Linked DNA regions of Homo sapiens. The protein of the gene in region 2 interacts with the protein of the main gene of each other region in a pairwise test. Each region holds a gene or a part of one and is shown on either strand. Other genes may lie near its edges. The genes, in order: FLII and LRRFIP2.

Region 1 (15,583 bases), on a different chromosome or scaffold from region 2:
GGCCCGAGAATTCCCATTTGTAAGTAAGTCTATGGGCGCCTCCTTGGATGGGCAGGGCTAGTGGCAACATCACACCTCTTGGCCATTGTCTAGCAACATGATGTCATCATCTGCCAGGTCATCTTGGCAAAAGTCGGAGCATTTCTCAGTCACTGCAAAGTAGCCCTTCTCGTTGGAGCACCTGGGAATCAAGGGTCAAGGTGAGGCCAGAGGTCATAAGCAGCAGTGCCAGGACTGAGGGGAGGGTCAGGGCCCTGGCCTCACCGGAAGAGACGTGTGTGTTTCATGTACTCGGCATCGTCATCATAGGGCTTCTGTGCCCCAATGCCCACCCAGAAGAAGTTCTCAGGCTCCTCACCTTCGTTGATAACCTGCGGGAAAGGCCAGTCCAGCCCAGGGCCCCTGCCTGCCCTGGCTCCTCTGTGTGTGCCCGCCTGCCCGCCCGCCTCCTGACCTGCTTGCTGTAGGAGGTGTCAAACATGGTGTTCAGGATGTCTTCTGCCAACTTGGCTTCGTCAGGGTCTGATGCCCGGCCCACCCAGGCATACACGATGCCCTGGTTGTCCTCACTCTCAAAGGGAACCTGGGGAGTGTGCAGGGGTGGGGGTGTTCGCAGCTGACTCAGCCCCCAAACACCCCACCCCTTGGTCCACGGAGTCCTGGCTCACACCCACAACCCCACCTTGAGGATGAAGCAGAACTCGGAGTTGAGGAGGCTGGAGTCGGTGTTGATCTGGATGCACCTGTGGAAGGGATGGGGCATCAGCAAGGATTCAGGCCTGGCTCCCTGACGCTTGCTCGCCACTGCGTCCTCCCCCAGCCAGGCACCGGGTGCAGAGGGCGCTGCCGTTGGTGCGGATCTGGTAGAGGCTGGGCTGTTGGGCGCCCTGGACCGCCTTCCTCTTGCCCCGGTGGATGATGAACTTCCTCTTGAAATGGGACAGGAACTTGGGGTTCTCCTGCTGCTGCGTCATGCGTACCACCTGGGGATGTGGAAGTGTTAGGGGCAGCTCCCTGGACCCCCACCTGCCCCTCGGGAGCCTAACCTTCGCTGGGTCTGAGCCCCACCACACCCCTCCGCCTGGCCTCGGGCTCGCGGGGCTGCCAGGCACACCTCCAGCTTCCCAGGGAAGAGGCTCTCGAACTTCTTTTGCAGGCTGAAGGTGAAGGTGAGCCAGCCCATATTGGAGGCTTCACGGCCCTGCCAGAAGTACACGATGCACTGGAAGTCCTCCTCTGGCTGCTTCTCCTCTGCCTCAGCGGTTGCTTCCTCGCCTTCTTTGCCCTCGGCCTTCTCCTCCTTGTCTTCCTTCTTTTCCTCCTCCTCGTACTCCACAGGCACCCAGTACCTGCCGGGTTGGAAGGTTGTGAGCAGGGGCTCGAGCCCCCAGCACCAGGGGAGGGACTTGGGGAAGGGAGTGCTGAGGTGGTACCTGCAGAGGAAGACGTAGCAGTCCTGCGTGTAGAAGTGGCCAAACTCCTCTTCCGGCAGCCGCGCAAACTTCTTGCCCTCCAGCACGAAACCCTCCATGCCGTCTAGGTCTTCGTTCCACTCCTCCATCAGCTGCTCCGCCTGCAGGTGAGAGGGACCCGCCCCGCGGCAGGTCTGAGCGCGCTCTGCGCATAGGCCCCGCCCTCGGCCTGCCCCCCACCCCCCCCCCCGCGCCCCGGTCCCGGCCCTGCCCCCACCTCGGCCAGCGACATGGGCGGCTGCCGCGGCAGGAAAAGCGCAGTGAGGTCAGCCTTCATCTGGTCTTTCTTCTCGGCGTCGCGTTTCACCTTCCCGGAGAGACCCGGGCTCTGCAGCACGGCCTCCGCATTGCGTGTGTAGTCCACCGTCAACACATCGTCCCAATTCTTGAACTTGGCCTTGAACACCTGCCAGGGAGGCCATCAACTAACCATGAGGGGTGCGGCATGATTAGAGTTGGAGGAAGTAGCCCGAGGCTTGAGGCGGGACCCAAGGGAGATCTAGGGCGGGGCTTGGGAGGCGGGGCCTCGGACACGGAGGTAGGAATAGGAGGGGCAGCTTGCAGAGGGGGCGGGGCCTGGGCAGAGTCAGCAAAGAGGAGGTGGGTTTGGGCCCAGCTCTGTAGGGAGGTAGTGAAGCCACAGGGGTCAGGGCATGTCAGGGTGCGAAGGATCCTGGGGAGGGGCCTCCGAAGCTGCAAGCGCACCTGCGCCTCGGTGCCCTCGAGGCTGCGGCTGACCGTGGCATGGCGTGGCCGGTGCAGCATCCCGCACAGCTCCTGACCCAGCTTGAGGGCGGCAGCGCGCACCAGGCGCGGGGACTTGCGGCCGAGCCAGATGAACACGTCGGACCAACAGTCCAGAATGTACACGCAGCGCGTGTCCAGCAGACTCTGCAGCTGCGGACCGGGAGTCTGGAGGTCAAAGCCCAGCCAACGGGGAGGGATCTGGCCCCACGCCCTCCTCCTGCATCTCTTACCAGCCGCATTCTTGGCATCAGCTCCACCTTGGGACGCTGCTTATGTTCCACGGAGAGCTTGTAGTTGATCTGTGGCAGCTCCAGGTAGCCCAAGCCCAGGCCCACCTGGCAGGAAGGATGAGCATGGCAGGGAAGGGATCTGGAGACAGGAACCTCACCCACACAGCCCTCTGCTCTGGAACCAGCCCTGCCCTGCAGCGTGGCTCACTGACTGCTTCTGTTTCCCCCTCCCCTTCAAGGTCTTTTTAGGGATATCCTTTCAGAAGGGCTTTTAAATGGAGTTTTCCCTGCCTGCCCTCTCCAGGCCCTTCATGCCATTTCTAATTAACGTGTCCCTTTCCTGTTCACAAGAATCTAGATAATTGAGCCAAGGTTCCCAGCCCTGGCACTAGGTGCTTCTGTCTCCCCTACGGCCCCACCATCCTGGAAAGACTCCGTGAGGCTACTTCTCAAAAGCAGCCTCCAGACCTTTGCTCATACTGTTCCTTGTCCAGAAGGTGGCACCCTCTCCCCACCAAAGTCGAGATGGAGCCCAAAGCCAACTACATCGGTGTGTAGTCCATTCCCCCAGTCGGTGGGTGAACTTGGGAGGCCAAGGTGGGCCTCAGCAGCAGGGCTCACCTTGTACAGCTTGGGCTGCGGCGGCCAGAAGTCTTCAGGCACGTGCTTCTTGATCTCAGAGGGCTCCCCACCCAGTGCCTCCCAGAACTCTGGGAGCTCCTGGCCCTGCACCAGCAGTGTGATCTCAGCCTTCCCTTTCCGCTCATTCTTGTTAATTTTCTCTGCAAAGAGCCTGAGAGCAGGATGCAAAGTCATCAGCGAGGCTCACACCCCTTTCCTTCACACAAAAGACCCCACGGTGTCCTTGTACCTGGCCTTGGTGGTGCTGCTCAGTGTGGCCTGGGCCCCCCGCCATACGTAGATGTCTAGCCCTCGGTCCAGCAGGAAAACAAACCTGGACAAGAAGGGGCAGGAAGGAGCTGTGATGGTGCATGGGGCAATGGTCACCCCATGCTCCTGACCCCACCAAAAAAAATCCCTCACTATGGGGTTTCTGGGTAAGCCCCAGGGACCCCCCGCCAAGCTCGTGGGCAGGAATTGCTAGAGGGCCTCCTCTTCTAAGAGGCCCACACCTGCCCCCACTGGTGGGGAGGAGGCTGAGGATGAAGCACCCCCACCTCACATTGTTGGGGCTCACCTTGGGTCCAGAGAGGTCCCCTTGAGGGGCACAGGCTCCAACTTGATGTTCTTTTTCCCATACACACGATACATCCTGGGCGCAGGGCAAGAGTGGCTCAGTGTAGGCACCAAGGGCCTAACTTAGCCCCAACACCCTCCCCTCCACCCCTTGCCAGCAGACTCCAGGTCCATACCCCCCACTGCCCACACACCCTCACCTGGTGACATAGTGTGTGTCTTCCACAGTGTAGAAGCCACTGGCTGTTCCACCCTCAATGTAGGAGATGTCGTTGTCAAACACCTGTGTGTGTGAGGGTGTGGTTCTTCATCACTGAGCTGCCCCCTCCCCCACCAACCACTGCCCCTCAGGTGGGGGTACAGAGTTGCATACAGGTGAATTGAGTGCTACAAATCTATGATGCCTGTAATCCCAGCACTTCAGGAGTCTGAGGTGGGTGGATCACCTGAGGTCAGGAGTTGGAGACCAGCCTGACCAACATGGAGAAACCCTGTCTCTACTAAAAATACATAAATTAGCCAGGCGTGGTGGTGCATGCCTGTAATCCCAGCTACTCGGGAGGCTGAGGCAGGAGAATTGTTTGAACCTGGGAGGCGGAGGTTGCAGTGAGCTGAGATTGTGCCATTGTACTCCAGCCTGGGCAACAACAGCAAAACTCTGTCTTAAAACAAACAAACAAACAAACAAACAACAACAAAAAAAACAGATCTGGCTGGGCACGGTGGCTCATGCCTGTAATCTTAGTACTTTGGGAGGCCAAGGCGGGTGGATCACCTAAGGTCAGGAGTTCGAGACCAGCCTGGCCAACATGGCAAAACCCCATCACTACTAAAAAAATACAAAAATTAGCTAGGCGTGGTAGCACATGCCTGTAATCCCAGCTACTTGGGAGGCTGAGGCAGGAGAATCGCTTGAACCCTGGGGGCGGAGGTTGCAGTGAGCCAAGATTGTGCCACTGCACTCCAGCCTGGGCAACAAAGCGAGAGTCTGTCTAAAATAAAACATACACATCTGTGTCTATAAACATACACACGTCGGGGTGTTGGGATGTATGAAAAATATGGACACGTTCACCCACGTTTGTAAAGATGCCAGCAGCATGTTTAGATGCACGCATATCAGGGTACACAAGCAAGTGGGTTCATGGAAGAGTGGAAACCTGGGTGAATGTGGGTAAAAAAAACTCGGGGCGGGTGGGGTGTGTGCATAAACTCCACGTGTGTGTACATGCGAACATATGTCTAGGTGTAACCAGCTGGCGGCTAACACTGCTCAGTAATTTATTCAAGACTGGACTCTGGTCCCGCCCTTGGCCCCACCTCCTTGGCATCCAGGTGTGTCCTTGCCTCCTAATAACAGGTTTTGGCCCTGCCTTCTCACTGCTCTTGGCAACACCCCTTCCACCCTACTCTCAGCTCCCCTGTGTCAGCCCACTGGTCTAGCTCCCATGCCCAGCCTGTACCCTTATCCTTGCCCGGCTGAATTCTGCCCCGCGTTCCAGAACTCTCCTTTGCTGACCCAGGCTTTGGCCACCTTAGACCTCACCCTGCGGTCTGCCTTAGGTCCCGCACAGTATCGTTGATCCACCCCCTTTAACCCCAGCTCCCTGCCTGCCCACCTGTTCTGCCTACCTGCCTTGGGCCCACTGCCCCTGCACCAGAGTTCCCTGGGAACCCCACTCTGCCCACCCCCAATTTTAACGGGCTGGCACCTGCAGGAACTCCTCGCTCTCATCGCCCATCTCCTCCCGGACAGTGCGGCACTCAGCACCCAGGTAGTTGCGCAAGTTGACAGCGTGGATGGCAGAGCAAGCTTTCTTGTCGAGTGTGGCCTCCCCGCCAATCCAGTAGTAGATCTCCCAGTTGAGGGAGCCGCTGTCATCCAGAAAGGTCTGGAAGCCAAGGCACCGGCCACATCAGCTTTCATCCTGGTCTTCCGGCCACCCCGGAGACGCCACTCTGAACAGCACAGGCTTCCCAGCCCCAGGGGCTTTGTACTGCCCCTGTGCCTGGACCACCTCCTGCAGCCTGCCCACCTCCCACCTGGCCTCCCTGAACAAAACTCTGGAGTTGGGGACTGAGCCATCTTAGAGGAAGGTACTGGGCCACATGGCCCCTAACAGCATGCCCAGCCCTCACCTTGAGCACAATGTAGCAGTCAGCCTCGTAGAACTTGCCGTGGAAGGCTTCCTCCACCAGCACAGGCACGAAGTTCTCTATCTGCCAGATGGTCAGTCCGGGCAGCTGGCCCACGTCCTCCGTGAAGAACTCGGAGTAGTCAAGGCGGGGCTTCTCCAGGCCCTGGTCCCAACGCCGCACCTTCCCGCTGGGGGCCCGGGCATCTGCGCTCTCCTGGGGGCAGAGTCACAGAGCACGGCTTGACTCTGTGAAGCCACTCAGGCCAGTCTTTACTTGCTACCCACACCTCAGGGCCTTTGCACAGCTGTTCTTTCTGCCCAGCACCCCCCGTCCCTCTTGGCCAGGGTCAAGGCCAGGGTCGGCCTTCAGCAGAAGCTAAGGCTCCCTGCCTTGTCCCAACCCTGGCCTGGCTCACCTCCTGCTTTTTGTTCTTCTCCTGGGCAACATCTGACATGCCCTTCAGCACCTGCTTGGCCTGGTCATCCTGGGCTGAATCCTTGCGCCTCCGCAGTCGCATCTTGCGAGCCATAGGGTCCTTGGGCCCACTCCCTGCTTAGGGGAGGGGCAAACAGCTGAGCCCTCACTGGGCCTGCTGCCCCCTTGGGCATGCGACCAACCAGGGGCCAACTCCACCCACCAGGGTCCAGAAAGCTGTATGCCACCCAATTTACAGATGTGTCATTTGAGGCCTGGAGAGGAGCCCCCGTTCCCAGGCCAGACCTTTCCCCACTCACCAGCTGCAGCTGCAGCCACGGTAGCAGGAGAGGCACCCGCTAGCCGCAGCTGGTTCTGCAGCGAGAAGTCGATGTTGTACCACTCAGCGGCACGGTCTGCGGGCTTGGGCGGCATGACCAGGTTGGGGTTCTCCCGCACATCCAGGACCTGCCCCATAGGGTGAGCAGAGCCGGCACTGAGCCTGGGTCCTACCTCCCAGACACACCAATCCAGTTTCTTGCTCTTGTCTGCAGCCGCCAGGGCTGAGAGGTCAGGGAACTGGGTTCTCCTCCCACCCACCTCTGGGGCTGGCTGGGGGCTTAAATGAGACTGTGGAATGTACTCTGGATGCAGGGAGGTGGGGCCCACCTTCTCCCCACGGGCACCCTGGCACTGGCCACCTCCCTCAGGAGGCCTCTGCTGGGTCCCCCTTGCTCCAGGGCACACCCCTTGCTTGTCTCTCTTGAGCCCTCTCAAACCCAGCATGCCTGACCTCGATCTCCGTCAGGAAATGGATGGCTTCTGGGAGGGTCACCAGGTGGTTCTTGTTCAGGACAAGTTTCCTCAGCTTTGGGCACCTGTGAAGACAGGGCCAGCCAGGGCCTCAGGCAGGTGACAGACAAGGGGAAGTGGGCAAGAAAACCCCTAGTCCTGGGGAGGGGAGGCAGGTAGGGTCAGAGGAACTGGCGGGGGTCTCCATTCTCTGCCTGAAGGACTTCTCAGAGCCAAGAGACCATGTTACGGGCACTGTGATCTCCAGAAGGGGAGAGAAGCAACACTGCGTTCCCACGTCATGTGGCCTTGTCCCTAACAGTGCCCCCCGAAGGGTGCTCTCAGGGGCTCAAGTTGGGAATGGCTGGCATGGGACTGTGGTCTTCATCCACAAAGGTGAGTTAACTGGGCCGGGCGTGGTGGCTCACACCTGTAATCCCAGCACTTTGGGAGGCTGATCATTTGAGGACAGGCATTCAAGACCAGCCTGGCCAACATGGTGAGACCCCATCTCTACTAAAAATACAAAAAGAGCCGGGCGTGGTAGCGCACGCCTATAATCCCAGCTACTCAGGAGGCTGAGGCAGGAGATTCGCTTGAACCTGGGAGACAGAGGCTGCAGTCAGCCGAGATTGCACCACTACATTCCAGCCCAGGCGACAGAGCGAGACTCTGTCTCAAAAACAAAAAAGAAAAGAAAAGAAAAGAAAAGGTGAATTAACCCATCTTCATTTTGTCTGACTTGCACAGACCACAAGGTGGGCTCTGACTACGATCCCGGGGTTCTCTGTGCTGCAAGTGCCTCTGCTAGCCCCAGCCCTGCCCAGCACCTGCAGAGACTTTCAGGGACCAGCTCCAGGTTGTTGTTGGCAGCCATGAACTCTTCCAGGTTGGTGAGCTTGCCAATGCCTGAGGGCAGCCCGTCAAAGTCCAGCTTGTTGGAATTCAGGTACAGCTTCTTCAGCTTGCTCAGCTTGCAAATGGCTGACTGGAGGGGGAACGGGCAGGGGTGGGAGGTCAGGGCCAGGCTCACGGCCTTCCTCCCATCCCCCTACTGAGGGCCTCAGACGCACGGGCAGTGAGGTGAGCTGATTTCGGGACAGGTTCAGAGTTTCCACGTGCACCCACTGGTCTATGCACAGGGACAGCTCCGTGATCTGGTTGCTGCTGAGGTTGAGGCGGCGCAGGCTGGGGAGGGTGTACAGACACTCGGGCACCCGTGTCAGGTCATTGCAGGACAGATCCACGTCTGGGGTGCAGGGTGGGGTGCATCAGCTGGGGCCCATACACCAGGTGCCAGGGCAGCCAGCCCTAGTGTGAACCCCAGCTCTGCCACCTCTGAGCTGTGTGGCTTAGGCAAGTGACAACTGCTGTGCGCCCAAGTTTCTCCATTTGGACAAACTCCCTCACATGGGGGTTGCGGGGGAGTTTTCTAGGCATAAAGTCAGTGTTAAGGCATCATCATAATCGCAAAAGTCACTGTAACATAACTCCAGCCTTTTCCCTCTGGGTATTGGTCCGAAGAGCAGGGTTCAACCCCTTCCACCCAAGGAAGCAAGAGGGCCCAGAGGGGGCCCGAGCTCAGAGGGGCTCCTGGGGCTGCCTGACCTGCGAGGTTGCTCAGACCCTCCAGGCTGGTGGGCAGGTTGCTCTGGGTGCGCTGGGTGCTCCGCAGGTGCAGGGTCTGCAGGGCCGTCATCGCTGGGAGCTGCCTGCCAGGGTGACGTGAGTGGTCAGGGCCAGGGCCCACCTAGGGAGTGTTAAGGGTGGGGCTTGGCAGGGCAGGACCAAAAGCACAGGGCCCAGAGGGTAGGTGTGAGGTCACATCTGGTTGAAGGGACAAGCCCAAGGGTGGTTGCGGGGTGTGTAAGCGGGAAGACAGGACTGAGAGGTGGACATGATACTTAGGAGGTTGTACACTGAGGGGTGCTGCCTGCACGGAGGGATGGCTGGGCCTAAGGGAGAAGGGTTAGGGCCCTGGGAAGTGAAGGGGCCCGGCCAGACTCCTCAGGGTGGCTTCTGCAGGAGTGCGGTCCGAGGGGGCGCCCACCGGAGCTGTGCATGCAGCAGGGGGTTTCCATTGAGCACGAGCGTCTGCAGGTGCACCAGGCGGCGCATCTGCGGGGGCAGGCTCTCCAGGCGGTTCTCGCTGAGGTCCAGGTATAGTAGGTCAGTGAGGTTGATGAAGAGCTGGTTGGGGATGGTGTCGATGCTACGGGTGGGGAGCAGGAGCCACCTGAGTCAGCACCAGCCACCCCACAGGGCCCACCTGCCCCCTGCCCCCCACTGGCCTGGCACCTGTTGTGGCTGAGGTTCAGCACCAGCATGTTCTTGGCGTTCTCCAGCTCCCGCGGGCACTCTGTCAGCTGGTTGTGGCTCAAGTCCTGGGTAGAAGGGGCAAGACCCAGGTCAGGGGAGTCTCCTCCCCACCAGGCGTCTGCCAAGCTTGGGGATCAGGCAGGGCACTGAGTTGGGTGTGGGGGTAGATGAGGGGGCTTCAGGGCCAAAGGGAGACAGCCAGGGACTTGGGAGGAAGAGTGCCTGTGTTAGGGATCTGACTCCAAAAGTGACCTCAGGCAAGGTATTATCCACTCCAAGACTCAGTTTTCCCATCTGCAAAATGGGATAACAATGGCCCCAGGGACTTTTATAGTGAGTGGGGATTGAATGGTCCGGCTAGCACAGGGGCCAGGTGAGTGGGTAGCCACTGACCAGGACTGAGAGATCATCTAGCTTGAAGATGTCATCGGGGACTCCGGAATTCTTCAGACTGTTGGCTCGGGCCACGATGGCCTGGGAATAAACCATAAGAGTCTATAATTCCTGGCTTCCACTCTCAGGAAGGAACAGAGTCTAGAGAGGGACACCTCCTCAGGCAGCTCACCAGAGGCCAGGCCTGAGGACTCTCTCACCTCTGGCCTTTGATCAAATAGCTCCCTCTCCTGGAGCGCTCTTCCTAGCCTCCCAGTGAGCTCCTATTCATGCCTCAAAGCCCAGCTCAAATGTGCCCCGGAGCCCCAGCACAGGGCCCTCAGGGAACCTTTTCTGTTCAAACCATTTCTCTTCTTCTTAATTCCAGAAGGTGAGATAGGGGTAAGGTCTGAGTCAGGGTTTTCAGAACAGAGGGAGAGAAGTGGACCACAGAGAAATCAGAATCTGGATGGAGAGGAAGTCTGCTTTCTCTCCCTAACTTAAGACTGACACCTCCTCATACCTTACAGACATGCAGAAAGCTTGAGCATGAGGGAACAGGGCCAGAGAATGGTGTCGTGACTCCAAGTGACAACGGGAGTCACCGGAGCTGCCCCGCCACTTCTCCAGTCTGAATGCCTGTGCGGCACCCTGCTGCTGCTTCACGGGGTCACTGCTGCCCCTCCCAACCACTGCACTTGCAGAGGAGGCCCAGAAGGTAGAAGCGATTTGTACAAAGTCACATCACCAGGAAGTGGCAAAGCCCAGCTTTGAACTCAGAGAGTCCAAGTCAGAAGCTGTGCCCTAAACATCTCCAGGGCTCTGACTTCAGATGGGATGGCCCTCGTTGAGGCCTACAGGGTCTGGCCAAGGGCCTGATGTTCTGGGACGTTCAAGTCTTGGGTAGAAGGTACACGGTGCTCCCGGCCAAACCCCACTCAACACCAGCTCTACCACTGCCTGGCTCTGTGACCTGGGGCAAGTAATCTGCCTTGGTGGCCAAGTTTCTCTTCTGCAACATTAGTGGAGGGCTAGAGCATATGAAAAAATCCTAACAGAATAGTGGGAACATTGCTCAGCCAGTCTTGGCTATTATTACTGTAGTTATTGTCCATAACGGCTGGTAAGATTTTGGATTTCTTTACCTTTTTCCTGATGGAATTCTCTGATCCACATGGGTTACTTTACACAGGGCACTGCTGTAACCTCTAATGAGAGGGCCCCTCTGTGACACCTGAGCCTCTGAGCCTGACACGGAGGTGGGCAGAAATGCTGGCCCAGCTTGGTGTCTAGCCCAGGCTTCACGTCCCTGACCGGACCTTGGCCCCAACCCCAAGCTCGGTGGCCTCCCGGCCAGCACTCACGCGCAGCGATGGCAGGCTGGACAGCTCCCCATGAAGCGTGGTCAGGTTGTTGTGGCTCACAGACAAGTGTTCCTGGGCCGGAATGGGGAGCACAGGCTCAGCAGGGTGGGTGGGGTGTCCAGAGTCCCTGCCTGCCTCCACAACTCTGCACCATCCAGGAAGGCCTCAGCCACACTGGCCCAACTACCCCTGCAGCTTCCCTCCCTCACTCACCCGGCCTCTTCTTGCACACCTCCCTGGACAGGGTGCCCACTCCCTTTCTTCCAGCTCTGCTCATAGCTGTCGGTGTTCCTCTCTCTGGAGAAGTTGTCTGCCTTCTCCACAGGCTCTGCCCACCTGGCTCATCCACAGGGACCCTCCCCTGCCCGCCCAAACCCCCTTACCAGCTTCTGCAGGGCGGCCAGCTCCTCGGGCAGGTAGCAGAGGCCAGTGCGGTTCAGCTTCAGCCACCGCAGGCTGGTCATGGCCTTGACATTCTCAGGGAAGTAGCCGCCCTGGGGGAAGGATGTCAAGGTGAAGCACAGAGCCCCTGCTCACCACCTTCTATGGCTCCTCCAGCCCATGGGAGCCTTTGGGGAGCCACAGAACCAACTCTCACCATCTGTGAGAACACAGACAAGTCATTTCATCATTGTGCCTCAATTTCTTCACCCATAGAATGGGAATTTTAAGCCCCCCCGTGACAAAAGTGTTGGCCTAAGATTTGTCTCTCCTACTGGATTCTGGGCCCCAGGAGGGCCAGGACAAAACTGGCTTGTTTCAGGTGAAAGCCCAGCATCCGGCTCTGTGGTTAGCTCGGCTCAAATTCCTTCACCTAGCATTCCACACTCTGACTGGCTGCCTGGGGTGGGGGATCCCCCTTCCAAGCCTTTGCAAAGGCGCCACCTGTGCCCTCATCCTGCCATCAGCACACTGGCAACTCACGGCCAGGGTCAAACCCTTGCTTGCGGAGACCGTGGCTCCCCACCCTGCAGGGCAGGCCAGCATCACTGCACTCCCCTGGTGTGTGAACGCCCACCTCGGCACCTCCAGCCCTTGTGGCACCAAGTCTGGGGCAGTAGGTGCCTTCAGTGCCTGCGGCTGATATTCCTTTCCCCCTAGCGCCACATTCCCAGCTGGTGACTCGGACTCTCCCAGTTCAGCAAAGAGGAACGGGGACCCCAGGTTAGGGTGGTGGGGATGGGGTCAGGGAAAAGTGGTGTAGCCACTTGTACTTGGGGTCAAAGGTGTGTACACAGGCAGGTAAACGCAGGAAAAACCTGCCTCCTCGGCCCCAGCCCCAGACCAACAACCCAGGCCGACCCTGCCAGTCACCCACCCTGAAGGTGAGGCTGACCCTCCAGCCAGCTCTCCCTCCCTCTCTTTCTCTGCTTCCCCTTTGGTCAGGCAATGCCTGTCTCATTCTTGAGTCCTGGAACCACCCCGCCGCCCCACCCACTGGCTGCGGAGGGCTGGGCTCCGGTCCCTTTTCTCTCAGTCCAGCAGCTGCTCAGACAACTGCCACCCAGCACCTGGCACACCGGCCTGACACACTCTCCACACCAACAAATCTCACTATACTCCTTGCGTCCAAGGAGGAGACTTTTAAGCCCCTTCACCGGCTGAGAAAGCCTAGGCTCTGAGAGGGGAAGTGATCTGAGAGGCCCAGGATCACACAGTATGGCGGGTGGCGGTGGCGGGGAGAGGGCAGTGATGAGTCGGCTCCACACCCGCCCCTGGGCAGCCGGGCAGCCATCCCTGAGTCAGGGCCTGGCTTGGGCGTGTGACCTCAGAGGGGCGGGGAGGCTCGCCCGATCCCCAGGCCACCATCCAGCCTAGACCGAGAACACGGACGCGGGGTGGGGGCTCCCGGCCGGGCCCCCGGCGGGACTCCGAGCCCAAGCGTCCGTCCCCGGCCTGCCCAGCCTCGGTCTCCCCGTACAGGCACTGGGCGGAGGCCTCGGAGGTCCATTCCTGGCCAGGGGAGAGCCCCACCCCGCCCCGGCCGCAGTCCCTGGGACACGCAGGGCCTGGAGCCGAGCGGGACAGGAAGCGGAGGCCAAGCGGGCCGGGCGGAAGAGAAGGCCTGCAGGGAGGCCCGGCACGCGCCCGGCCCGGCTCACCTTGAAGTCGTTGCCGCTGAGGTCCACGCCACGCACGAACGGCAGCACCCCGGTGGCCTCCATGGCGCCGCTCTCGCTGCCGGGCCGCGCCGGGCTAGGGAGCGCCGGGGCGAGGGCGCTGGGGGGAGCCGCGGGCTGGGCCAGCGCCGGCCCCGCCCCTTTAACCCGCCCGCGCCCGCCGCATTCCGCGGGGAAGTGTAGGCTTTAGGCCTCTTAGGGCCTCAGTTTCCCCGTCTGTTCGAAGACTGCGGAGGCACCAAGGAGTGCGGGCCCCCCCTGTGCTGGAGTTGGAGGCTTCCACGATCTCCAGGCTTAAGTCCCAGCGCCCCAGGGCAGGGGCCGTAACGGCCGCTGGTCGAGGCACCGTCACCTGCGCTGCTGCAGCACATGAAGCTGGCCCTGACCTCAGAGAGATTCTAAACCTCGGCCCCGGGGCGCAGAGGCCCAGGAAGTGCCTGTACTTGGCTGACCGGTGGTAGTGAGACACCTGGATCCTCGGGTCCTAGCTCTCCTGCTTCTGGACTTAGTTTCCTCATGTGTTGTTTTTGTTTTGTTGAGACAGGGTCTTCTTGCTCTGCTGCCCAGGCTGGAGTGCAGTGGTGTGATCATAGCTCACTGCAGCCTCGAACTCCTGGGCTCAGCCTCCCGACTACCTGGGATTATAGGCGCAGGCCACCACACCTGGCTAAATTTATTTATTTTATTTATTTTTTATTTTTTTTGAGACAGAGTCTCGCTCTGTCGCCCAGGCTGGAGTGCAGTGGCGCAGTCTCGGCTCACTGCAACCTCCGCCTCCCGGGTTCACGCCATTCTCCTGCCTCAGCCTCCCGGGTAGCTGGGACTACAGGCACCCGCCACTACGCCCGGCTAATTTTTTTTTTTTTTTTTTTTGTATTTTTAGTAGAGACGGGGTTTCACCGTGTTAGCCAGGATGGTCTCGATCTTCTGACCTCGTGATCCAACCGCCTCGGCCTCCCAAAGTGCTGGGATTACAGGCGTGAGCCACCGCGCCCGGCCTTATTTATACTTTTTGTAGACACGGGGTGCTTGCTATGTTGCCCAGGCTGGTCTTGATCTCCTGGCCTCAAGTGATCCTCTGGTATCAGCTTCTCAGAGTGTTGGGATGACAGGCGTGAGCCACCGCGCCCTACCCAGTTTCCTCATTTGTAAAATACTTTCTAAGGTTGTCACCATGAGCAAATTAACAAAGAATGCACGTGTAGCTCGCAGCATACAGCAGGCGCTCAGTGAGTGGCAGGTTATTATTCCGTTTTGTTTTGTTTTGTGCGCCAGGTTATTATTCCCACTTAGTGTCAGCACCCCTGTGCTCGTACCCCCCTACAAAGGGAGGCTCCAGAAGAGAAGCATCCGTCTTGGTCCTTGCTGTTCAAGGGGGCTCGCCCTGGCTGACACATAGCAGGACCCCAATAAATGAGCCACAGCTGTTATATGCCCAACCATCCTTCGCAGGGGAGGAGGGGGTCTAGTGTCCCCATTTTACAGGAGAAAAACTGATGCCCAGGTGGAGAATGGCCCACACAAGCTCGCACAGAGCAGGTGGCAGGGGTAGGCGCTGTGCCCCTCAGGCCCACAGGTAAGAATGAGGCCACCAAGACACTCTCTCGCAGAGGTGACCTAAGAGGTTGGATGTGCCGGGCCTCTAGCCATGTGCAGCCTCTCTACCTGGTCCCCAGAAGGAACGGGGCCCAGACAGCTTCCTCCACACCGGAGGCTCACATTACAACGCACAGACGTCCTGGAGGGTCGCCTGTCACGTCACCTGTTCGCGGTCTCGGAATGCAGCCCTGCACCTTTAAATCCAGACTGCGTCAGGGAGTCCCGCCCCAGAGGGAGTGCGGCTGTCGGCTGGGGGGCGGGACCTGCCCTTCATTGGCTGAACCGCGCAGTATTTTGGCACCTGTGCGCTGGACTCGAGCGCTCCGATTGGAGTTAGGGCCTGCTTGTCTGCGTGCTGCGAAGTCCGCGGCTGCCCCCGGGGCCCTAGTCGTTGGGTTCCAGGGTCCTTCACGTTCCATTCCCAGGCTGGTCTGAGCTCCGGGGCCGTGGTCCCGCTGCCTCCTCCGGTCGTCGTGCGGAAGCTGCGACGCAGGTACAGCTGGAGCGCGGCGGGGCGGCCCCCAGGGTCACCGGGCTCGGGGCTTGGCGCGCGACGGAACGCAGATCGGGGGCGTGGCCCGCGATCACCGCTGGGGAAGGCGGGGAGGGGACCTTTGGGGGACCAAGGGCAGCGTTCGAATCCTAGCCCAGCCCCCTTCCCCTCTCGGTCTCTTGGTTTATCCTGCGAACGGGGCGTCACCCGCCCACCTAGGGCTGCTGCGCGGCCTGCTCCGCCCGGGCCCAGGGCAGGCAGGTTTGGCGGAGGAGGGAAGGCCAAACGGCCTCCAGGGCCCCGCTGCGCAAACTTGGGTTATTTT
Region 2 (15,583 bases):
CTCAAGCAATTCTCCTACCTCAGCCTCCTGAATACCTGGGATTACAGGCATGTGCCACCACGCCTGGCTAATTTTTGTATTTTTAATAGAGATGGGGTTTCACCACGTTGGCCAGGCTGTTCTCAAACTCCTGACATCAGGTGATCCACCTGCCTCCACCTCCCAAAGTGCTGGGATTACAGGCGTGAGCCACTGCACCCAGCCTGAGTTTCTCAATTTCTGGAAGAAAAAAAAAAAAAAGGAAAGAAAAAGAAGGGGAGGAAAAAAAGGCAGCTGGGGTTTTGACACAAAAATTAGCCAGGTATAGTGGCTCACACCTGTAGTCCCAGCTACTTGCAGGGCTGAGGCAGGAGGATTGCTTGAGCCCAATGAGTAAGCCCTATGCGCAAAAAAAAAAAAAAAAAAAAAAAAAAAAAAATTCACTTAAAAGTCTTTAATTAAGTAGTTAGACCTCCAGGTCCCCTTTCCATTGCTAGGCTATTACCTCAGCTTCAACTTCATCTCCTATTCTCCAGGATACCAGAAGTTCTAGAAGACAAAGGGGCTCTGGGGAAGGGAAGGGTAAGCAATGGGAACAGGGAGGGAGTAGGAAGTGTGGGCTTAGGTGAAAGTATGCATTTTGAAATGTGGGACTGCTTCAGCCCCCTTTAAATCACCCATCCTGCTACCAAAATATATACCCCTTTTCGAGGGAGGTCAAAATTGACCAACCCCACCTACTTTCAAACCAAGAAGTCTGTGAAAACCCACTAACTCAGAAGAATAACTTAGTGAAAATAAACTACGCAGGGAGAAGAAAACTTCAAAAATAACCATCATTAATATCTTCAGAAAATTAAGGCAAATTATAGCCATGAAACAAGAACAAGGGGCTATTAAAATATTCAGAGAACAGGGTCGGGCGCAGTGTCTCACACCTGTAATCCCAACACTTTGGGAGGCTGACGCAGGCGGATCACCTGAGGTCAGGAGTTCAAGACCAGCCTGACCAACATGGTGAAACCCTATCTCTACTAAAAATACAAAATTAGCTGGGCGTGGTGGTACATGCCTGTAATCCCAGCTACTCAGGAGGCTGAGGCAGTAGAATCACTTTAACCCAGGAGGCAGAGGTTACAGTGAGCCGAGATCACGCCATTGCACTCAAGCCTGGGCAACAGGAGTGAAACTCTGTCTCAAAAAAAAAAAGAAAAAAAAATTCAGAGAATACAAGATCTTGGAAATTAAAACATGACAGTAGAAATTAAAAACACAACAGAAATAATCAATTCCACTCTATACTCAAGAGAATTGAAAACTTATGCCCACACAAAAACTTGTAACGGAATATTCACAGTAGCACTACTCCTAACAGCCAAAAGTGAAAACAATTCCAATGTCCATCAGCTGATGAATGGATAAGCAAATGCGGCATATCCATAAAATGGAATATTACCTAGCCATAAAAACAAATATATTGGGCCTGACATGATGGCTCACGCCTGTAATCCCAGCACTTTGGAAGGCCAAAGCAGGTGGATCACTTGAGGTCAAGAATTGGAGACCAGCCTGGTCAACATGGTGAAACCCCATCTACTAAAAAAAAAAAAAAAAAAAAGCAAAGATTAGCCAGGCACGGTGGGACACATCTGTAATCCCAGTTACTTGGAGGCTGAGGCATGAGAATCACTTGAACCCAGGAGGCAGAGGTTACAGTGAGCCAAGATCGCATCACTGCACTCCGTCCAGCCTGGGCAAAAAGCAAGACTGTTTCAAGAAAGAAAGAAAAAAAAAGGAATAAAGTATTGACTCGTGCTACATACAACAAGGTTGAATCATGAAAACATGAGAAGTGATAAAAGCCAGACACAAAGATTACATATTGAATAACTTCATTTATGTAAAATGTCCAGAATAGGTAAATCCATAGGGACAGAAAGTATAACAGACTAGTGCTTTCCACAAAGTCTCGGGTAAAGAGGAAATGGAGAGTGACTGCTATGGTATGAAGTTTCCTTGTAGGGGTAATGAAAACCTTCTGGAATTAGGGCTGATGGCTGCACAACTTTGTGACTACACTAAAAAACCACTGAAAAGGTCACTACTTTAAAGGGGTAAATTTTATGACACACGAGTAGTACCTCAATAAAAAAATTAGTTTTACAAAACTCAGGTTGGGAAATAAAGTTCAAGAAGTCTTACAGAAAACAGAAAAAAAAAAAAAAGAGAGAGAGGTAGAAAATAAGAAAGAAAAATATATAAGGTTAAAGTATCAGTCCATAGGGACTAACGTTCAAATAACTGGAGAAAGAGAAAACAGGCTGGGTGCGGTGGTTCATGTCTGTAATCCCAACATTTTGGGAGACCAAGGCAGGTGGATCCCTTGAGCTCAGGAGTTCGAGCCTGGACAACATGGCAAAACCTCCTCTCATCTCTATCAAAAACTACAAATATTAGCTAGGCGTGGTGGGGACTGAGGCAGGAGCATCGCTTGAGCCCAGGAGGTCGAGGTTGTAGTGAGTCATGTTGATGCTACTGTACTCCAGCCTGGGTGACAAAGTGAGACCCTGTCTCAAAAAAAAAAAAAAAAAAAAAAGAAGAGAGAGAGAGAGAAAACAAAAATAAATTATTAATAAAATAACTTCCCAGAAGTTAAGAACATGAGGTGCCAGACTAAAAGGGCCCAGAGTGTTCAACACAAGTCCTGAGTTCACACCAAGGTATATCTTAGTGAATTTTAAACAATGAGAACAAAGATGACTTTACAAGCTTCCACAGGGTAGGAAAGTCAGGCCACACATAAAAGATTAAGAATGGCTTCAAGACTTTCAAAAGTAATTCTGGAAACAAGAAGATGATAAGAGTGATGCCTTCAAACTCTTGAAGGAAAATTATAGACAATCTATAAGTAGCCTATACCAGTCAAATCCCTCTTTTTCATACTTGATTATTAAAGGCATTTTCAGACATGAAAGGTCTCAAAAATTTACCTCTTTTACACTCTTTGTCAATAAGCTACTAGAAGATAGGCTTCAGCAAGTAAAACTGAAAAACCAACAGAGAGGGAAACTTAGCATACAGGAAATAAATCAAACACAGAAGAGGGGCAAAAGGGAACCTCCAGAAGAATGATAGGTGTATCTCAGAAAGAAAGCTACAGATTGGAGCAATATGACTCAAGAGACATAATGAAGGACTGTCATTACCAAAATCCCCACAGCCTTTGGGGCACATCCATTTAACATGAGATGTGCCTGGTCCAGGTTTTCATTGGAATTTAGTTTGTCTTGACCCCGTGTTGATAAAGTTCCTGGAGCCTAGATGGGCTGAAGACTTATTTCACAGCACAGACATGTTTTGCTTTTCCTTATTCTTGAGAGCTAAAGCGTGATAAGCTTAGCTTAGAAGCAAAACCACATAGAGCAATCTACTCTCCCAATCACATTTCTTCTAGATATTTACCGTAGTATCTTGTAAACACTTTAGTTTTGCCAGATTCCCTGACTGTGGGGAGCCTGTGTTTCTCCAGACTCAATAACAAACTTTCCCAATGACTTATCCAAAAAAGATCAAGGAAGACTCTTTTCAGCTTATCTTCTGAGAGCTTTCATCTAATAGCAGCAGTATGTACCTTTCCTTTCACAGCCTCAGTTGATGCTTGCTATTCAGTTTTCCAAAACAAAATGATATATTTCTTAGGGATACATACCATGGCAGAGATTGGCTCATTGTTGACCAAGGCGTTTTCCCTTTCCTTCCTTGCAGTTAAGTGTAGCCATTTGACTCAGTTCTAGCCAGTGGAATGCGGACAAAACTGATGTATACCACATCCTGGCCTGGCCCATCAAACTTTCCATGCAATCTACCACAGTCCCTCTCTTTGTCCTCGCATCTGCCAGCCAGATGCAGGAAATTCAAAGTCTCTGAGGCCCCAGTGGGTGGCAGAATCACTAGCTGAAAGCAGCCTGAGTCCCTCAATGACTCTGTGGAACAGACCACCACTCTGTCACTGCTTTTCAACTCACAGCAAAGATGTGAGTGAGAAATAAATTTTGTGTTAAAAACCACTGATTTGGTAATTATTCATTAAAGTAGTTCAGCCTATCCTGACTAACAGACTTAGAGAGGTAGTAGAGCTTTTTGGTTTTTCAAAATTAAAAATTTTGGCCAAAAATACATGTATGGACATGGAGGATATTGCAGGCTTGAGCAGAGAATGGTCCCAAGAGAATGACTAATATGTTAAAATAGGCTTGTGATTTCCTGGAAGGGAGGGGGTGCCATTAAAGGATATCTTGAGGAAACTTCTAGGATAAATGTAACATGTAATTTCTTGACCTAGGTAGTGAGACCACAGGTGTTCATGTATTCTTCTTCCTAAAACTGTATTTTTGTTTTATATTTCTCTATAGTTCACAACTAATTTTATGCAAAATAAATTCGTTTTATAGCTTATAAATTGATGTTATAAGCTAGAATGGATGGATGGATAGATACATAGATAGATGAAGACTCTTGAAAAATCTGTTGGCGCATTTAGGGGGAAAGCAACAGGTAAACAGAAAATTATGTAAATGTAAAAGGCAAATTTTAACTCCCTGAAAAAACAAAGTTAAACAAGAAAGGAAACAAGTATGATATACCACATGGCTGATCAGTAAACAATATTTATTTCATTATAATGAAAACACCAACTATTGATTTAAAATTTCAAAATTGGAATGTTGCAGGGAGGGAAAGTGGGATGAAATAGTGAAGAAATACAAAATAACAATAAAACCACCAGTAAGTCCCACCATCCGAAGATACTCCTATTTTAATAACATTATTTTTTAAACAAAAATTGGTTAATATGGCAGGGCATGGCGGCTCATGCCTGTAATTCCAGCACTTTGGAAGGCTGAAGTGGGCAGATCACCTGAGGTCAGGAGTTCGAGATCAGCCTGACCAACATGGTGAAACCCATCTCTACTAAAAATACAAAAATTAGCCAGGCATGCATGGTGGCAGGCGCCTGTAATCTCAGCCACATGGGAGGCAGAGGCGGGAAAATTGCTTGAATGTGGGAGGCAGAGGTTGCAGTGAGCCAAGATCATGCCACTGCACTCCAGCCTGGATGACAGAAAAAGACTCCGTCTCAAAAAAAAAAAAAAAAGTTCCTAAAACATGCTATTTTGTAATCAGTTATGGTAGACAAATTCTAAGGTGGTTCCCCACCCTAATCGCCCTTCCTACTGTTCACACCTTTGTGTAATTACTTCCCCCATGAATGTAGGTGGGTCCTGTGACTTACTTCTAACCAACAGAATATGGCAAAGGTTATACAGGATGCTACTCCCATAACTATGTTACATTATATAAGACTGTCTTCCAGCCTGGTGCGGTGGCTGACGCCTGTAATCCCAGCACTTTGGGAGGCCGAGGCTGGCAGATCACGAGGTCGGGAGATCGAGACCATCCTGGCTAACATGGTGAAACCCCATCTCTACTAAAAATACAAAAAATTAGCCAGGCGTGGTGGTGAGCGCCTATAGTTCCAGCTACTTGGGAGGCTGAGGCAGGAGAATGGCGTGAACCTGGGAGGCGGAGCTTCCAGTGAGCCGAGACTGCACCACTGCACTCCAGCCTGGGTGACAGAGCGAGACTCTGTCTCAAAAAAAAAAACAAAAAAACAAAAAAAAATGAACTGTGCATGTGAGGGATCTAGGTTGTGCGTTCCTTATGAGAATCTAATGCCTGATGATCATCTGAGATGAAATGGTTTCATCCCGAAACCAACCCCCCCACCCACCCCACCCCCGTCCATGGAAAAATTGCTTTCCACAAAACTGAATCCTGGTGCCAAAAAGGTTGGGGACCACTGCCTTATACCATATAGAAAAGTTAACTCAGGGGTCAGGCATGGTGGCTAACGCCTATAATCCCAGCACTTTGGGAGGCCAAGGCAGGCGGATCACCTGAGGTCAAGAGTTCAAGACCAGCCTGACCAGTGAAACCCTGTCTCTACTAAAAATACAAAAATTAGCTGGGCGTGGTGGCAGGTGCCTGTAATCCCATCTACTCGGGAGGCTGAGGCCAGAGAATTGCTCGAACCCAGGAGGTGGTGGAGGTTGCAGTGAGCCCGAGATTACACCATTGCACTCTAGCCCGGGCAACAAGAGAGAAACTCTGTCACAAAAAAAAGAAAAGAAAAGAAAAGAAAAGAGAAAGAAAGAGAAAGAAAGAAAGAAAGAAAGAAAGAAAGAAAGAAAGAAAGAAAGAAAGAAAGAAAGAAAGAGAAAGAAAGAAAGAAGAAAAAACTCAAAATGGATCAAAGACCTAAACAAATGAGCTAAAACCATAAAACTCGTAGGAGAAAATATATGGGAAAAACTTCATGATATTGAATTTGGCAATGATTTCTTGGACATAATACCAAAAGCAGAAGCAACAAAAGAAAAGGTAAGTTGGATTTCATCAAAATTAAAAACTCTGGGCAGGGCGCGGTGGCTCACATCTGGAATCCCAGCACTTTGGAAGGCAGGCAGATCACGAGGTCAGGAGTTCAAGGCCAGCCTGGCCAACATGGTGAAAACCCGTCTCTACTAAAAATACAAAAATTAGCCAGGCATGGTGGCGCATGCCTGTAATCCCAGCTATTCAGGAGACTGAGGCAGGAGAATAGCTTGAACCCAGGAGGCGGAGGTTGCAGTGAGCCGAGATTGGGCCACTGCACTCCAGCCTGGGCAGAGCAAGACTCCATCTTAAAATAACATAACATAAAATAAAATAAAATAAAATAAAAACAAAACTGTGTACATCAAAGCACACTATCAAAAAGTAAAAAGGCAAACCACGGAATAAAAAAAAATTTGCAAATCACATAGCTGATAAAGGATTGATATAAAGAACTCCTACAACTAAGCAACAACAAAAACCCAATTAAAAAGATAAAAGACATAAGTAGACATTTCTTCAAAGAAGATACAAAAATGGTCACATGAAAAGATGCTCAGCCGGGCATGATGGCTCAACATACGTAATCCCAGCACTTTGGGAGGCTGAGGCAGGAGTATTGCTCGAGCCCAGGAGTTGGAGACCAGCCTGGACGTTGCTTGAACCCAGAGTTGGAGACCAGCCTGGGCAACATGTCTCTACAAAATATAAAAAAAAAGAGGCAAGGCACAGTGGCTCATGCCTGTAATCCCAGCACTTTGGGAGGCTGAGGTGGGCGGATCACCTGAGGTTGGGAGTTCGAGACCAGCCTGGTCAACATGGAGAAACCCCATCTCTACTGTAAATACAAAATTAGCTGGACATGGTGGCGCATGCCTGTAATCCCAGCTACTTGGGAGGCTGAGGCAGAATCGCTTCAACCTGGGAGGCAGAGGTTGCAGTGAGCAGAGATAGCGCCATTGCACTCCAGCCTGGGCAACAAGGGCGAAACTCTGTCTCAAAAAAAAAAGAAACAGAAGGAGAAAAGAAAATCAGCTGAACATGGTGGTACATGCCTGTGGTCCCAGCTACTGGAGAGGCTGAGGTGGGAGGATCATTTTAGCCCAGGAGGTCGAGGCTGCAGTGAGGCATGATTGTGACACTACACTCCAGCCTGGGTGCCAAAGCAAAATCTTGTCTCCAAAAAAAAAAAAAAAAGAAAGAAAGAAAGAAAAGAAGAGAAAAAGAAAAGATGCACAATGTCACCCATCACCAGGGAAATACAAATCAAAACCACAGTGAAATACCACCCTATTAGAGATTTTATTTTAAAAATAATCGATTTTTTTGTGTTAGAAAACAGGGCCAGGCACAAGCAGGCCGGGTGCAGTGGCTCACGCCTGTAATCCCAGCACTTTGGGAGGCCGAGGCGGGCAGATCACAAAGTCAGGAGTTCGAGACCAGCCTGGCCAATAGGGCGAAACCCCGTCTCTACTGAAAATACGAAAATTAGCCGGGCGTGGTGGCGGGTGCCCATAGTCCCAGCTACTTGGGAGGCTAAGGCAGGAGAATCGCTTAAACCCAGGAGGGAGAGGTTGCAGTGAGCCGAGATCGCGCCACTGCACTCTAGCCTAGGCAACAGAGCAACACTCTGTCTCAAAAAAAAAAAAAAGAAAGAAAGAAAAAAGAAAAAAAAAAGAAAACGGGACCAGGAACAATGGCTCACACCTGTAATCCCAGCACTTTGGGAGGCCAAGGCTGGCGGAGCTCAGGAGTTTGAGACCCTCCTGGGCTAATGGAGAGACCTCATCTCTACAAAATATACAAAAATTAGCCAGGCATGGCAGTGCACACCTGTACTCCCAGCTACTCGAGAGACTGAGGTGGGAAGGAACACTTAAGCCCGGGAGGTCAAGGCTACAGTGAGCTGTGGTCGGGCCATTGCATTCCAGTCTTGGTGACAGAGTGAGACCCTGGCTCAACATAAATAAAAATCAATCAATAAGAAAACAGAAAATAGTAAATGTTGGCAAGGATGTGGAGAAACTGGAACCCTTGTGCATTGCTGGTGGTAATGTAAAATGGTATAGCCACTGTGGAAAATAGTATGGTGGTTTCTCAAAATATTAAGCATAGAATTACCAAATGAAATTTGGTAATTATCAAATTACTAGCAATTCCACTTCTGGGTACATACACAAAAGAATTGAATGTGGCACTCAAACAGACATTTGCATACTCATATTCATGGTGGCACTATTCCCAAAAGCAGAAAGATGGAAACAACCCATCTATCAAAAGATGATTAAACAATATGGTATAAACATACGAAGGAATATTTTTCAGCCTTAAAACAAATGAAATTCTGATACATGCTATGACATGGATGAATCTTGAAGACATCATGCTAAGAGAAATGAGCCAGACACAAAGACAAATATTACATAATTCCATTTATACGAGGTACCTGGAGTACACAAATTCATAGAGTCAAAAAGTAGAACAATGGTTACCAAGGGCTATGGGCATGAGGTGATATTGTTTAATGGGCAGAGCTTGTTTAGGATGATGAAAAAGTTAGGGAGATGGATAGAGGTGATAGTTACACAATAATGTAAATGTACTTTATACCACCGAATTGTACACTTAAAAATGGTTTAAATGATAAATTTTAAGTTATGTACACAGTCATGTGCTGCATAAGGATGTTCCAGTCAACAATGGATTACACATATTACAGTGGTCCCATAAGATTATAATGGAGCTGTCCTATACACGTGTGCCCTTTTAAGAGATGGGGCCTCACTATGTTGCCCAGGCTGGAACGCAGTGCCTATTCATAGATGTGCTCATAGCACACTACAGCCTAGAACTCCTGATCTCAAGTGATCCTCCTACCTCAGCCTGAGTACCTGGAATTACAGGTGCACACCACCATGCCTGGCCTATTTTCTAATCTTTTATATCATATTTTAACTGTATCTTTTCTATGTTTAGATACACGAAAATTTACCACTGTGTTATAATTGTCTACAGTTATAGTATTCAGTACAGTGACATGCTGCACAAGTTTATGGCCCAGGAACCACAGACTATACCATATAGTCTAGGTGTGTAGTAGGCTATACTGTCCAGGTTAGTGTAAGTATACTCTATGATGTTTGCTTGACAAAATTACCTAATGATGCATTTCCCAGAACATATTCCTGTCATTAAGCAACAAATGACTGTATTTTACCATAATAAAAATATTTTTAAAAAAGGTCAACAGAGTAAATTTTATGTTATCTATATTGTACCACAATTTTAAAAACAAAACAAACTTTATTTGATTGCAAAGGATGAATCTGGCAAGACAAGAACAATGCCCTCTCATTTCCTTGACTGTTCACCTAGATACAGCATTATCTGTGACAAGGGAAAAAACATCTAATCTAAAGCTGAATTTTTTTCTACATTTAGTCCTATAATCCTTAGGTCACTTAACTGGGATACTCACTTTTTAAAAAAAGCAATGCTATATATTCAGTTTGTTCATGATTTAAGCCATTTAACAGGGAAATAAATATTTTAACATCCTAATCCTCTGCATACAGTACGGTATACTCTAACTTACAAAACAGAAAGCCAAAAGATTTCTTCTAGCTGTTAATATATTTCTACTTAGGAAAGTGGGCATGTAAGGAACAACATGCTCAGAACAGTAACATAAAAATTAAATTTGCTTCCCTAAAGCAGTAAAGATATCTGTTATATCAAAAGTAGTTAAAATGTGGTAATGAAGGAACACTAAGATATACAGGGTTCAAAATGAAAACAATGGAAAAAGATAATCCATGATTCTTTAATGAAGGTGTTTATATTCCACCTCTGAGAAAGCACCCTGGTATGTATTCCAAGGCTTTTCCCAGCTCTTTACCACTTTCTTTCACTGCTGCTTTTTATTTCTTTTCTTTTTCTTTTTTTTCCCGAGGAGGAAAGGAAGGCAGAGACAGAGAAGGGAAAATAAGATAATGGGAATAAACTGATAAGGAAGAAAGAAAAACTAGTTTATTTTTTCTCCTCACACTGAATCCTAAATACATTATCATCATCATCATTCTCATCATCATAAATGTGAACAGCTGCAAATAACTGAAGGCAAAGGAAAACTAAATTTCCTCCAGTCACAACCTAATCTAAAGCAAAAAAGTGGGGGTGGGGAGGTCCATCTGCAGGCTTGCATCTGTAAATTAAGTTTGTATGCTGAATTCTTCAAACAATCTTGACCGTAATACAAAGCTGCTGTTAAATATGGTGACATGAACCTTGGTCTAAGGGTGGAACACTAAGTTCTTTCAACAGCTTTCTAGCCTAAGAAGTGACATCAGTTAAAGAACTTTAAACCCAAGTGTTTCATTCACTAAGTATAAACAAATCAAGGTTTTCATAAGACACCACATAGTACAAACTAAGAGTTTAAAGATATAACTTCATGATACTATATAGTACCACAGGAAAAGCAGAATGAGAATTTGGGAAGAAGCTAATTTATCTATCTGAACTTAAAATAATCCTGTAGCATAGTCCATTATTCCAAGAGTCCTTTTGATCTTAACGACAAATACGAAGGTCTCTGAATTGGACTGCTATTTTAACTGGGGCCCTCCCTATGCCAGTAACAATAATGCTTTTTCCCTAATGTAAAACATTTGACCGATTCTTGGCAAACACTCTCATATAACCAGAAGATAACATCAATGCTGGCACAATCCTATGCTCTTTCTTGTGCACCTTTTTCTAAAAACTTTCCTCCTGGACGGGCGCAGTGGCTCATGCTTGTAATCCCAGCAATTTGGGAGGCCAAGGTGGGTGAACGATGTGAGCCCAGGAGTTAGAGACCAGCGTGGGCAACATGCGGACACCCCGTTTCTACAAAAAATACAAAAATTGGCCCTGTGTGATGATGTATGCATGTAGTCTCAGCTACTTGGGAGGCTGAGGTGGGAGAATCACCCGAGCCCAGGAAGTCGAGGCTGCAGTGATCTGTGTTCATACCACTGGACTCCAGCGTGGGCATCAGAGTGAGACCCTGTCTCAAAACAAACACACAAACAAACAAAACCTTTATTCCTTAGCTTTCCTTAATAAGAGGAAGAAGCAGGGGAGGAGGAGGTAGCACTAAAAACTTGGATCCTCGGATATACGGGCTAAGTAGTTGTTCACCCCAAAACCTAGCCTTAATCTTCTGAAGGCAAAATGTCCTTTATAACTCCCCCTTCTGTGCTTGCCACTGATCCTAAACCGCAGGCCTTCCTGACTTGCAAGAGGACCAGGCCAGATTATGGTTATGTGGTAGGTTCTGTCAGGCAAGCTTTGACAAGGTCTCAAAATAGACCCTGGGCACAAGCCAGGGAAGCTGCCACTCATGAGTTCCGACTTCATCAAACTATAGCCCTTCAGTATGTAATTTTTTTTTTTTCTCTCTAGTGTCTCTCTCATTTCAAAAAGGCAAAGAATCCTGAACCTCCTCCTGGCCACAAGTAACCTATATAACATCAAACCTAAGCCTCCTTTATTCTGTTTACAAAAACTTTGCAGAATAAAGATTGAATCTGTACCTCCTTCCTGCCTTGAGAAAGTAATCCATCAAATAGCACTCTAGTTTGCAAAAGGATTTTTGGATCTCAAACTCCATAGAGGTTTATTTTATTATGTATAGATTAGGATGTGGAAGGTAAAGGAAAAAAGGAGGTAGATTATTTACTTCTTTCCTGACTAATAATATAGTAGCCGACTTATGCAGGGCAAGAATTTAAACTATACACAATGCTTTTAATTGATACTGGTCATAAAATTCTGAAACAATCAACCTACTTAAGATGTAGCCATTTAACTATTATCAAATATAAATGCTTCTATATGACAGTACCAGTCTTCAAACCACAATATTTCTACTTTTACCAATACAAATAAAATTAATCACCTGACACTCAAATGTTTTTAAGTACCTTATAAAATAATTTGCAATATTTTTTAAATGGAGAGATGGATAAAGAATACAAAGTAATTAAGAGCTCCTTTCCCCTTCCACAAGCCCAAGAAATAAGTTAAATTCTATTATAAATAAAGCCAACATGGGATTGAAATAGTTTTAACTTTTCATAACTTCAGTCTCAATCTTACAGTCACACTTTGAAAATACATTCTGTATAGATACTAACTAATGCAAAGACTTATATATGTATTGTTCATTACAGCAGTGTTTGTAGAAGGCTAAAAACAACCTAAATATCTGTCAATAGAAAATGGTAAAATAAATTACGGAAAATGAATAAATTATGGTTCATCTACACTAGCAAGGCATGCGGTCTTTTTTAAAAAAGTAAGAAATATGTGCTAAATACAAAAAGATCTTCATATGCCAAAGATAAGAATGAAAGATACAATATATTTCTCCTAGACATATGTGATTGAATATGGTTGCTTGGATTGGGGGGTTGGGGTAAGGAAAGGCTGGGAGTTTGTGGTGGAAAGCAGACTTTCTTTTCATCATATACCACCTTTTAAAATGTTTTATCAATTTTTAAAAGTCCCATAAACATCTACTGAACCCATGAAATAAGCATTCTCCTTCTATAATGCCATTTCTTCCCCTTCCCTAATTATCTCTACTTTTATCTACTGCTCTCCCTACCACTAGGCTAAAACAAATGCATACATATGTTCCCTATGAAGTGGAATTATCTCTTGACCTCCCCATCAAAATAAATGAATAATGAACTAATGAAGAAGTATAACACATGATCAACCCAGTTTTTAGCCTAGTTGTTTGACTCCTTTGAAGTCCAGCATAATTTATTATAAGCCAAAAAGTTCACAAGGCAAGTTTTGTTCAATTCCTTCCTTCTGAAGTTTTAAAAGTTGAGTTTTATTGGCCGGGCGTGGTGGCTCATCCCTGTAATCCCAGCACTTTGGGAGGCCAAGGCGGGCAGATCACGAGGTCAGGAGATCGAAGCCATCCTGGCTAACAGGGTGAAACCCCGTCTCTACTAAAAAATAAAAAATAAAAAATTAGCTGGGCATGGTGGCGGGCGCCTGTAGTCAAAGCTACTGGGTAGGCTGAGGCAGGAGAATGGCATGAACCCAGAAGGCGGAGCTTGCAGTGAGCCGAGATTGCGCCACTGCACTCCAGCCTGGGCGACAGAGCGAGACTCCACCTAAAAAAAAAAAAAGTTGAGTTTCATTTATTTATTCTTGAGACAGGGTCTCACCCTGTCTCCCTGGCTGGAGTGCAGTGGTGTTTTCAGGGCTCACTGCAGAACTCATGTGGTCTTCCCATCTCAGCCTCACAAGCAGCTGGGACTGCAGGGACACACCACCAGCTAATTTTTTTGTAGAGACAGGGTCTCACTATGTTGCCCAGACTGGTCTTAAACTCCTGGGCTCAAGCAATCCTTCTGCCTTGGCTTCCAAAAGTTGAGTTTTAAATGATGATCACAGATTATATTCTTTATTTGCAGACTGAACAAAGTAGTACATTTTCCCTATTAAAGGACCATCTCTCAATTTAGATGTTCCACATAGAAAGCAACTACCTAAAAGGAAAAAGCTACGAAACAGCCTGTATTTTGCAGGTGCAATGGATGATGATCCTAAGATAAAGACAGAAGAATTTTATTTCCTTCTGAATGATCCTCATCAACATTCCCAGCACACTGCAAGAATTATTTTTTTCTATATATCATCAACTCTGTTGCTTCTCACACTAGGAACAGGGTAAACAATCCACAAAGAGTTCTTCAAGAAATTGCTCCCTCCCTCTTGCTAAATTCATTTCTAATAAAGATTTGTTTTTGTTTTGAGAGACAGAGATACTTTGCCAAATATATTCTCCATATTACCTTTTCCTTTCGTTAACGGAGATACTTAAATCCTGACCTAGGAAGGTTTCCCTTGCATATTTACCTATCAAGACTGTCAGTTACGGTGATTTCCAAAAGGGATTTTCCAAAAGGGAATCTGTGTTCACAGGGAACTGAAACTCTTAAGTCACTATTTAAATTAGCTGGACAAAAATCAAAAGCAACATTAGGGAACACTCTGAATATAATGGATATCCAAAGTAAAAAAAAGATGCCAAAATTTAGTGAAAGAAGTAAAGGAATTTAGTAAGCTAGACCAACAGGATAGACTTGCCATTATTTTTTAACTAAAGTTCTTTATAAATGAAAATCAAGGTAAAAATCAGCTGAACTCTAACAGAAGGAAAAGAAAAACAAGGGTAAGGGTATTAAGAACTCTGTGATTTCAACCTTATTTTACTTAACATTTTTAAAGTCAAAAATGAGCAAATTACATTTCAGCAATAAAAAGCTATTTCTAGTTTAAAGTGAATCCATTCCAATCACAACTTCAATACACACTTTCTTCTAGAACAGAACTTAATAACTCATGTAGTTTCATTCTACATTTTTAAAGACAGAATCACAAAAATGGGTGATGCTTTCCACTCAAAAGACTATTTTGTATAGTGCAAATTCTTTCAGTGAACATTTTCATACCTTAGTGATGGTAGCTCTCCTTTCCACTGACATTTACATCTAGACCCCTTCATTTATCTTCCCACATCTGGCAAAAAAAAAAGGGGGGGAAGGAGTAAAATCAAAGCAATCACTTATAAACCAACAAACTATTCTAAATTCCAGCATTCTGCAAATACTTCAACTTTTATTTCATTACCATTCTTCACGATGATAAATATCCAGCAACAGACCTAACAAAACATAATACAACACTTCCTATAAAATGAGTAAAGAATGCCATCTCATTAGGCAGATACGAACTTAGGTTTCCTCTATTTCAATTTTCAGATTCATAGCAATGATTCACAAAGTGAGTGATCTACCTTCGAAATGAATCACACTTTCTGAAATTCTTATTCTACATATTATAATACTAGGTCATTATCTCTGCATCTGTTAAACAGAGCATGACGTTGGTTAAACAGGGTTAGTGCTGCAAGATATTCAAACCACAACAACCGTGGAGTCCCTGCCAACTAATTCTATTTGCAACACTGCATTCTCCAATAACTGCACTTTTTCATATAGATTTATCCTCAAAATAAAATGTTATCTTGAAAAAATATTATTTTAAACACTGATTAAGAACTTATACATCCATACCCCGCTCTCCTTCTCTCTTGTTT

The links.
Region 1: the proteins of LRRFIP2 (region 2) and FLII interact in binary tests that used the Homo sapiens proteins (3 or more experiments, as listed by UniProt).

The regions. Positions count from the first base shown.
Region 1 is NC_000017.11:18,245,480-18,261,062, forward strand, and holds the start of FLII (protein flightless-1 homolog), read right to left. Parts: upstream 13,260-15,583; 5' UTR 13,212-13,259; coding exon 13,149-13,211; exon of another isoform or gene 12,998-13,148; coding exon of another isoform or gene 12,968-12,997; intron 11,541-12,967; coding exon 11,430-11,540; intron 11,119-11,429; coding exon 11,047-11,118; intron 9,785-11,046; coding exon 9,704-9,784; intron 9,376-9,703; coding exon 9,290-9,375; intron 9,204-9,289; coding exon 9,042-9,203; intron 8,704-9,041; coding exon 8,600-8,703; intron 8,241-8,599; coding exon 8,065-8,240; intron 7,980-8,064; coding exon 7,822-7,979; intron 7,078-7,821; coding exon 6,993-7,077; intron 6,668-6,992; coding exon 6,520-6,667; intron 6,338-6,519; coding exon 6,201-6,337; intron 5,999-6,200; coding exon 5,786-5,998; intron 5,539-5,785; coding exon 5,359-5,538; intron 3,930-5,358; coding exon 3,847-3,929; intron 3,723-3,846; coding exon 3,648-3,722; intron 3,405-3,647; coding exon 3,321-3,404; intron 3,243-3,320; coding exon 3,071-3,242; intron 2,555-3,070; and 20 more. UniProt on the Homo sapiens protein: Is a regulator of actin polymerization, required for proper myofibril organization and regulation of the length of sarcomeric thin filaments. It also plays a role in the assembly of cardiomyocyte cell adhesion complexes.
Region 2 is NC_000003.12:37,159,603-37,175,185, forward strand, and holds the start of LRRFIP2 (leucine-rich repeat flightless-interacting protein 2), read right to left. Parts: upstream 14,981-15,583; 5' UTR 14,937-14,980; intron 13,425-14,936; exon of another isoform or gene 13,189-13,424; intron 1-13,188. UniProt on the Homo sapiens protein: May function as activator of the canonical Wnt signaling pathway, in association with DVL3, upstream of CTNNB1/beta-catenin.